2 separate regions of the Homo sapiens genome follow, and region 2 is reported to be linked to region 1. The links are microRNA targets in miRTarBase. Many come from high-throughput screens and were not tested one by one. Region 1 holds a microRNA gene; the other region holds the end of a gene's coding sequence.
Evidence for each region. Region 1 holds the annotated microRNA hsa-miR-607 (GUUCAAAUCCAGAUCUAUAAC, at 2,978-2,998, opposite strand). A microRNA usually pairs through its seed, bases 2 to 8, with sites in the 3' UTR of a target mRNA and lowers its output. Matches are read on the target gene's strand: a 7mer-m8 pairs with bases 2 to 8, a 7mer-A1 pairs with bases 2 to 7 and ends in A, and an 8mer does both.

Region 2: the mRNA of ZNF549 is a reported target of hsa-miR-607. The part of its 3' UTR that is shown has no 7-base or 8-base seed match.

The regions. Positions count from the first base shown.
Region 1 is chr10:96,825,707-96,830,774 of GRCh38, forward strand. MIR607 (microRNA 607) reads right to left here and starts at 3,058; the gene lies at 2,963-3,058. LOC102723665 (a long non-coding RNA gene) reads right to left here. Exons shown (of 1, transcript NR_135921.1): 1 at 4,926-5,068. RefSeq lists a cis regulatory region at 4,940-5,068.
Region 2 is chr19:57,538,113-57,543,189 of GRCh38, forward strand. ZNF549 (zinc finger protein 549) reads left to right here. Exons shown (of 4, transcript NM_001199295.2): 4 at 1-2,764. The coding sequence ends at 815. ZNF550 (zinc finger protein 550) reads right to left here. Exons shown (of 4, transcript NM_001397372.1): 4 at 3,726-5,077. Among named protein-coding and RNA genes, the nearest start is that of ZNF549, 13 kb to the left of the region's middle.

The DNA of each region.
Region 1 (5,068 bases):
ATGGCGTGAACCCGGGAGGCGGAGCTTGCAGTGAGCCGAGATTGCATCGCTGCACTCCAGCCTGGGCGACAGAGCGAGACTCTGTCTCAAAAAAAAAAAAAAAAAAAAAAAGAAAAAACTAGATTTGTTGTTGCCAGCGGGTGAGGAGATGGGGAATGATGAATAACTGCTGATATTTCAGGGTTTCTTTCTGGGGTGATGAAATGTTCTAAAAGTGATTGTGGTGATGGTTGCACAACTTTGTGAATATACGAAAACCCCCTGAAGTGTACATTTTATTCTTTTATTATTTTGTAATGGTACTAAGTTCTAAAGATAGTAGAAAAGCTAATATCATCAAGTTCCTTAAATGATAGTAAGAAAACCTTCCGGGCTGGGCGTGGTGGTGGGTGCCTGTAATCCCAGCTACTTGGGAGGGTGAGGCAAGAGAACTGCTTGAACCCGGGAGGTGGAGGTTGCAGAAAGCTGAGATTGTGCCACTGCACTCCAGCCTGTGTGATAGAGTGAGACTCTGTCTCAAAAAAAAAAAAAAAAAGAAAGAAAGAAAGAAAAGAAGGAAAGAAGGAAAGAAGAAAGAAAGAAAAGAAAAGAAAGAAAGACTTCTGATGCCAGAAGCCCCCTCCATCAACAATCTGTCGAGCAATGTTCTTCACTCAGAGGCTCCCATCTGACACTAGGTAGGGAAGGCGTTGGTGCCCTTTGCCCATAACTAGCCCATGACAGAATGCTGCCTTGGACAGAGCCCTCACTCACTCCAAAGAGGCCAGGAATGCTAGGTAGGGAGGAATTTACATGCCTAGGCCAGCTCTGGACCAGCCCCAGTCCTATGGTACAGAGAAGGACAGTGGCAGCTAACGAGCTTGGAAAAGTCCAAAGCCAGCCTTGTTTAACACCAGTAACAATTTTACCTCTACACTGAGGGCTAACATGCATCCAATTCCAGTTCCTCTTTCTCCATCTAAGTAACTCCAGAGGTGGCACTAAGCCTGGCCCACTCACACAATCTAGGACAGAGCAATAGTCAGACATCTCAATGGGCTCAGCTTCCCAGTAATAGGAGTTACTGAGAACAGCACTGGGGGAGCCTCTGTCCATGTCAAAAAGGAGCATCTAAGAGGGGTTACTGCCATAACTCCATCCTTCTTGCTGTGCTTTGAGAAACAGAAGCCAAATCCTACCTCCCTTCAAAGAGCTCTAGTTGCTATGGGAACCAATCCCACCCCCCACTTGAGTCCCGAGACTTAGGAGGGTATGGAGCCAGGAGGAGGCTCCCGGGTGTCTCAAGAGCAGCCACACTTCTCTATCAAGGATGCGTTCACACAGTGAACGCTCATCTTACGTTCGTCATCCTGGACCGTTAGGGAGAAGAGAATGACCTTGGTGGGACTACAGGTCTGAAAGAGCCAGGAACAGATCAATAGGCACTCCCCTCTTATAGTGCAAACTTTGAGTGCAAAGTTGGATTGATGAAGCTCACTGTTGAGGGTCAGGCAGGTCCCCTGACAGTAAGGGAAGCTGGAAGTCTTGGGTGCAACAATACACTCACCGCAGGCAGCTCTGTGAAGGTTCACCTTGCAATCCTGCAGATGACAGAGCTTCTCTGCTGGAAATATATCCTGGCCATGGTCTATCTCCCCATGATTCTGGCATGGGATCCCCAGAGTCAGCTGCTCCACAGTAGGGATAAAGCATTTCTGGACGTAAGGCAGGTGAAACAGAGGTGGCTGTGTTGGGGACAAGGTCATGAACAGCAACACTATGTCTCACTTGCCTTTGATACTAAAACACTGGTTCAGGCTGGGGTCAGACGCATTAGTAGCTGTAATCTTTTCCTCTGCCAAGAGGGTGGGCACCACCTCCATCCAATATATTAGTAAACAGTAGATCTCCAATAATGATCCTCCTTTCTGACTGGTAGGATGAAAAGATAATGGGGAAAGAGCCCAAGAGGAATCTTTCGCAGTTGGTGGTGGTTGGGGGGCAGGGGTTGATGGGTCTTGAACTCTAGAACAAGCTTAGTGGCATGGGGATAGTGGACACCCAAACCCATAGCTATATCAAGGAAACCTCCAAGAAGGGAACTGCCTCAAAACAGACAAGCCAGTAGCTGTGTAGGAACTAGGAGCTTTTGGATGTGAGGGTAAAACCATGTTGCCAGGCAGAAAAGATCTCATTTATGCAGAAAGGCAGCACCCGGCTGGGACAGTCAAACATTTCTACCATGCTAAAACATGCGCCAAAGACCCAGAGCCAAGAGCCCAGGAAAAAGCCAAGAGATGCCACTCCTCCCACTGCCTGCTTTCAGATGAAGTGGACACTTCAAATGGGCGAATTTTATGGTATGTGAAATATATCTCAATAAAACTACAGAAGAAAAATAAATGTCACACGTACAACATAAAGTAAAATCATACATGTTTTCTAGGCCAGTGGCATAGAGGTATACAGGCTGAAAAGAGAGAAACTCTGAAAGTTATTTATTTATTGAAACAGGGTCTTGCTTTGTTGCCCAGGCTGGAGTGCAGTGGCATGATATCAGCTCACTGCAACCTCTGCTTCCCGGCTTCAAGTGATTTTCCTGCTTCAGCCTCCAAAGAAGCTGGGATTACAGGTGCACCCCATACCCAGCTAATTTTTTTTGTATTTTTGGTAGAGACAGTGTTTCACCATGCTGTCCAGGCTGGTCTCGAACTCCTGACCTCAAGTGATCCTCCCGGCTTGGTCTCCCAAAGTGCTGAAATTACAGGCGTGAGCCACCATGCCCGGCCTGAAAGTCTTTTATTAAGCAAAAAAAGCCACTACATGAGTAGTTTCTCAAAAAGACCAAAAGCCGTGTGACCAAGTGACATGGCTTCCTTTCTGTCTGGCTAGGTCTTGTCTCTGACTTAGGTCTCATTTCCCCGAAATAGCACTGGAAGCAAAAAATAGTGTGATGGTTAAAGAGCCGGCTTTAAGTAACTCGCCCAAAGTCACACAAGTTATAGATCTGGATTTGAACCCAGGCAGTCTGGCTCCCTGGGTTCCAATCCAGATCTATAACCTGTGTGACTTTAGGCAAGTTACTTAACCTCTCTGTGCTCTGTTATAAAATGGGATACACGATTGGGTTGTTGCGAAGAATAAATAACATAATCTTTGAAACGTGCTTCAAAAAGCATCTCTTGCTTGTTGGAATTTATTTGAAGTTGACTATGTTTTTTTAAAAAAGCCTCCCATTAGGACATGCTTTTTTTAGAAGGCCCCAATCATTTCATCCTCCCATTTGTCAATGATCATTTCTATGTTGCAAGCCATCTTTAATCAGACACCAGGTAGTAGTTGATCTAATGCTGACAAGCCAAGTCCTACTCCCCTTCCCTGACATTCCTTTTCTGCCATTGTGAGAACTATAGAACATGGCTCAGAGGTTGTTTTCAAAGGCTGAGGTCATTGCTATCATTCCTTCATACTCTCACAGATTAACTCCAAACTGCAGAAGCATCTTGGTTTCCCATCATCCTGCAGACTGGGCAAACAGATAGGAGCTTAGGAAGGCCTAATCAGAGAACAGATGCTCATTTCATGCTAAGAATGTGCTAGCACTGTACGTGAATAGTTTCATTTCATTTTCACACAAACCCCATCTTGCAGACTATTATTATCCTCTTTTTCACATGAGGAAATTAATGACCAGAAAAGTTAATATGTCAAGGTCACACAGCCACTGAAAAATGGAGCCAGAATTCCAACCCAGCTGTCTTCAGACCCTATTAACTGCCATGTTATATTACCTGCCCCTCCCTAGAATGTAAGAGTTTACAGCTAAGGCCCTCTTTAACAGTAGCCCAAAGCAACAGAGGTCAGAAATTCTGTCTTATCTATCTATGTCCTCGGTGCCTGGGACACCGCCTGCCATGTGATAGGAACACAGAATGTCCAACTGCTTAACTGTGCTCGGAACATGTCATGTAGAGTTAAGTGAATCCTCCAGTTGCAGAGTCTATTTTCTACTTGTAAGACTATTTATTTATTTACTTATTATTTATTTATTTATCAAGATGGAGTCTCAGCTCTGTCGCCCAGGCTGGAGTGCAGTGGCACGATCTCGGCTCACTGCCACCTCCACTTCCTGGGTTCAACGGATTCTCCTGCCTCAGCCTCTTGAGTAGCTGGGATTACAGGTGCCCACCACCATGCCTAGCTAATTTTTGTATTTTTAGTGGAGACGGGGTTTCACCATGTTGGCCAGGCTGGTCTTGAACTCCTGACCTCAAGTGATCTGCCCACTTCAGCCTCCCAAAGTGCAGAGATTACAGGCGTGAGCCACCGCGCCAAGCCAACTTTCTACTTGTAAGACAATTTAGAGGGGTTTAGAGTCACAGAGATCTTAGTTAGAATTTGGTAGCTATGTGATCTTGACAAATGTATTTAACTCATCTGAGTCTTGTGTCCCTAACTTGGAAAATGTGGTAAATATATACTCATAGCATTATTATCTGGATGGAATGAAACAATGATAAACATATAATAGGTGCTCAATGAATATTAGCTGTTACTATTGCCTCCCTATCCTTTCTTCCAAATAGGTCTTTGTGATAGGTCAACCATGAGTTAGTTCCCAACTCAAAATAAGTGAAGCAGAAATTGGAACTCAGAGTAGAGTAGTAAAACTAGCATTAAATTGGAAATTGGGAAACTTGTCTCCTGGCTTTTGTTGCCCTTTCTCTACCCAGCAACTATGTAATCTTGGTCAAATCACCTTACTTGTCTGGGCTTCCAATTTCATATCTTAAGTTACAAAATTGATCTCTGAAGCCTCTAGGATTCTCTGAATCCATATGTCTGGGACTAAGAGATTATGTCGAGGAATTATTACCCTTGGTTTGATTGTTTTTTAAACAAATTAACTTGGGGTGGTTGGAAAACACATTGATTATTTACTCATCTTAGAGTTACACGTTGTTCATTTATTTGAAACTGAAACGTATTTCCTCCAAACACCGTAGAAACTTAAAGGCCGCAAAAGACTCACACCCACCACCTAGCGGCGAAAAAAGGAAGTTTCAGGTGATACAAGATGTCCTGCCAT
Region 2 (5,077 bases), not on the chromosome of region 1:
TTATTCATTCCTATGACCGCATTCGACACCAGAGAGTTCACACTGGAGAAGGGGCTTATCAGTGCAGTGAATGTGGGAAATCCTTCATATACAAACAGTCACTTCTTGATCACCATAGAATCCACACGGGAGAAAGGCCTTATGAGTGCAAAGAATGTGGGAAGGCCTTCATTCACAAAAAAAGACTTCTTGAGCACCAGAGAATTCATACTGGAGAAAAGCCTTATGTGTGCATCATATGTGGGAAATCATTTATCCGCTCGTCTGACTACATGCGACACCAGAGAATTCACACTGGAGAAAGGGCTTATGAATGCAGTGACTGTGGGAAAGCCTTCATCTCCAAACAAACACTTCTTAAGCATCACAAAATCCACACTAGAGAAAGGCCTTATGAATGCAGTGAATGTGGAAAAGGCTTCTACCTTGAGGTTAAACTTCTTCAGCACCAAAGAATCCATACTAGAGAACAACTTTGTGAGTGCAATGAATGTGGAAAAGTCTTCAGCCACCAAAAAAGACTTCTTGAGCACCAGAAAGTTCACACTGGCGAAAAGCCCTGTGAGTGCAGTGAATGTGGGAAATGCTTTAGACACCGCACCAGCCTCATTCAACACCAGAAAGTTCACAGTGGAGAGAGGCCTTATAACTGCACTGCATGTGAGAAGGCCTTTATCTATAAAAACAAACTTGTTGAGCATCAGCGAATCCACACCGGAGAAAAGCCGTATGAATGTGGTAAATGTGGGAAAGCCTTCAACAAAAGATATTCCCTTGTCAGGCACCAGAAGGTACATATAACAGAAGAGCCCTAGCAATTGTTGGGATGTGTAATTGTCTTATTCACTGTAGGACACCAGAGAGCTGATTTTTCAAGGGATCCAACAGACAGAAATTCACCCTCATACATCTGCATATCACTAGTTGAAAGATTCACTACAAGGTCCAAGTACTTGGGAAGCTTTCTAGAGATTACTTGTACTTTCTAATCTGCCCAGTGTTACAACAGACACTACCATGTGGCATATCCTCACCGTTTTCATCAGTCACTCACATGTGCTCAAGGAATGCAGACCACTGTGCTTACCAAATTCTGAAGGGAATAATATAATAAAAGCCTGTTGAGGGTCCTCTTCCATCTTGCTGAACTGTTCGAGGCAAAGACAAAACCCAACTTTGACCAAGAAGAGCAATCTGGATTCTTGTAGCCCATGGAGGTTTACCTTCTTCATAGGTTTTTTTTTTTTTTATGTGATTGCCATAGTGGGATATTCCCTCTCCCACATTACCCAAGAGGGAAATGGGCTGTCTTACCATGTGCTGATGTATGTGCTCTGCCAGTGTGAAGGGTGAACAGCTCCAACTTTATGTCCCCCCAGGGACATAGTATGAGATCGGAAAATAGTTCTTAGTCCTGTTTGTCTTAATTTTTATTGGTTTCCAAGGTCTCCTAGGAAGGAGAGCAGAGCTGTGTGGTCCTAATCATGGTGTCGATGCCAGATTTATTTGTAGGTCCAGAGGTCTCCCTGAGAAGAGGCATTTGTGACAAACTCAAGTGCTGGGACCTGCATGAATTGTTTATTTGCAGTGATGCTTCATATTTCCCAGCACTGTTCATGGTATCTTATTTCCCAGGTCCTTCATTGTAGCCATGGGCACTGAAGGACTGAATTGGTAGGTAGGTCACTGGTTGTAAGACCTACTGGGGCCAGGTAAGAACAGTAATTGGCCCAGACAGGTAGGTGTGATAAACAGAGTAGAAAAGATTGTGGCCAAGAAGAGTGAATGTGTCCCATCCAAAGGTGCATCCAGATATGTCTGTGTTACTATGGCTTCATGGTTTGGGGGTATATAGAAATTCTCAGGACCTCAGACCTTTGATTCTCCTTTAGCAACACACATCGTCAGCATAAGGCATCTAAAGATTTTGTGGACTCATAACTTATGTACTGTTTTTGAGATGATTGCTGCACGGGCAGGAAAGCAGGATTTGAGAGAACATACACCTTGCCTTCCAGATATGTGGTTTTTGTGATTCACCCAGATCTGTTGTGCCAGTTAGGAATTATCTTTATTACTTCCCGTTTATTGCCACTGCTGAGAAGGCTGTCCTTCCTAACTTGTGAGGAGATGAATCCTTAATAATAAGTAAATCTTGTGTTATCCTATAGTCTGGTTTTCCAAAAGGAGAGGTAGATGCATATTTTTGTGTGGAACCATTTATCTTAAAACATTGAGGTGCAGTTTTCATACACAAAACCTTCTATCTTTTTAAGAACTGTCTGTATGGTTTATTGCCCAGTTAATGGGTTTTGATAGTCATGTTATCTCAGTAAGTGTCTTGTCTTAGAAATATGTGTGTATAGGCTGGGTGCGGTGGCTCATGCCTGTAATCCCAGCACTTTGGGAGGCCAAGGCAGGTGGATCACCTGAGGTCAGGAGTTTGAGACCAGCCTGACCAACATGGTGAAATCCAGTCTCTACTTAAAATACAAAAATTAGCCAGGCGTGGTGGCGTGCATTTGTAATCCCAGCTACACAGGAGGCTGAGGCAGGAGAATTGCTTGAACCTGGGGGGCGGAGGTTGCAATGAGCCAAGGTCGCGCCATTGCACTCCAGCCTGGGCGACAGAGTGACACTTCTCAAAAAACAAAAACAAAAACAAAAAGAACAGATAAGAAATACGTGTGTATATATTCTATTTTGTGTGTTTTCATTCACCTTATTTCATTCAGTCTTCCAAATGAAATGTTCTTAATTTTGATGAAGTCTAATTTGTCTGTTTGTTCATTTACTGTTATTTTGGTGCTATTAAAAAAATTTTATTCCTTGGCTGGGCACGGTGGCTCACGCCCATAATCCCAGCACTTTGGGAAGCCAAGGTGGGCCGGATCACCTGAGGTCAGGAGTTTGAGACCAGCCTGGCCAACATGGCAAAACCCCATTCTACTAAAAATACAAAAATTAGCTGGGCATGGTGGTGGGCGCCTGTAGTCCTAGCTAGCTACTTGGGAGGCCTAGGTGGGAGGACTGCTTGAACCCAGGAGGCGGAGGCTGCAGTGAGCCAAGATTGCGCCACTACACTCCAGCCTGGGCGACAGAGCAGGACTCCCATCTCGAAAAAAAAAAATTGTGTAATTATAGGAACTTTGGAAAGATTGTTATTCAACTGATATTACATAAGGTATTTATTTTGTAAATTATTTGCAATATTAGAATTTCTGTCAGCCTACAGTATTTCTCTGCTGTTATTCTGACCTTAACACATTGAAAGAGTTCTTAATTTTGCTTCGCCATCCCTTACGCATACTTAATTTTTGTTATTTTGCCAAATTCCAATTATCTTTACAAGATCATTTTATTTTTTAAAAGAGCTAACCAGACAAGAAAATTTGCCCTTGTTATTCCCACTTCCTATATAGCTTGTCTGCCAAAACCTTTATGCCATTATTCTCATCAGTCTCATTCTCAGGGGTTTCTCTGAGCAAATCCATATAAAAGTGGAACTATATGACATTTCCTGCCCCGTTCTCATGCTTCATCTTTAATAGGTAAATTTACCATTTTAAATAGTTTTAAAATTATCTTCACTGTGTGTACTTTGGATTTAATCCTTACTAATGATTAAGATGCTCTAAGAATCAATGTAAAACTAATTTTAAAGCCAGCAGCATAATTTTGTGAGTTATGCCTGAGTATTCAAAAATCCTAACAAGTCAAAAATATTAATTAAAATCAATATGTTTAATCTTTCCAATTAAATACTTCCATTCCATAAACTTCAGAACCAAAGTTAGATACCAACAAGAGACTGAAGATAAATACAGTGTCAATAGTATCAAGGGACTAGCCCATATAATATACTTGAAAATCGTATTAATCACCAATAAAGTACCCCACCATAAACAAAATACACAATAAAAAGTCAAGATACAAATAAAGACAGGCCAACATATGAGTAGACCATTGACAGAAGAGGAAAAACAAAAGGCAATGAAAGGATATGAACTAATGTTCAAATGTATTTCAATATGAGAAATACCAGATATATTCTATATCACTTTAAACTTCTAAAGTAAAAACTGGAAAGCTGGGTAATTCTAAATATTGTCTGGGACACAGTGATACAGAAACACTTTTGTCCATCTTATGGGAGAGGAAGGGCAATGTATAACATAATTCCAGTTACATACTAGATCACCATATGACCTAGCCATTCAGCTGCAAGGTACATTTCTCATGTATGGCCATAAGTTTATTTAGAACATAATACTGATGACCTTATTTTTAAGGTTGAATCAAGCTGGTGGTGATATATTTCATAGCAGGAAAATGGAGGAAATACATGTCCATAATCAGAGGATTTGAATCAAGGATGAAAGCTTCATGATGTAAAATATTACATGGCAGTTAAAAACAATTGGCTAGAGGTAAGCCCATGAAATATAGGATAGAAATATAATATTTTGCTGTAGTTTGAGTGAAAAAGAAAAAAAAAGAATTGTGAGGTCTACAATAAAACATAATTTAAAAATAATTTAATACCACAAAAACTCCAAAGAAAAAAAACCAAAACAACCCAGACACTTCTTACTAGAACATATGTTCCATGCTTCTATCTCGGCTTCTGGTAGCCCCGTGTGTTCCTTGGCTTGAAGATGTTCTTCCTGTGTCTTCACATCGTCTTCCCTCTGTACATCTGCCTCTGTGACCAAATTTCCCATTTTTCTAAGGACACAGTCATAGTCAATTAGGAACTAACCTAATGGATTAACTAACATGATTACCTGAGGTTCTGAGGGTAACGACTCCAACATCTTTTTTGGAGACACAAACACTTAACATTGCCCTATGAATTTCTGCAGTTCTTCAAAGGGCAGAGTGAATAATAACCACAGCAATTTCAAGACACACAGGCTTCCATTGTGAGATGGCTTGTTTAAAGAAACTATTAATTCCCTACACTCTTCTGATCACTCTGTTGTTCACATTCATTTTAGGATTTCTCTTCCAAATCACTTCTGGTGCTTTCCTTCTTGCTTCTTTCATTTCCTTCGGTGTTGTAGTTCTATTATGT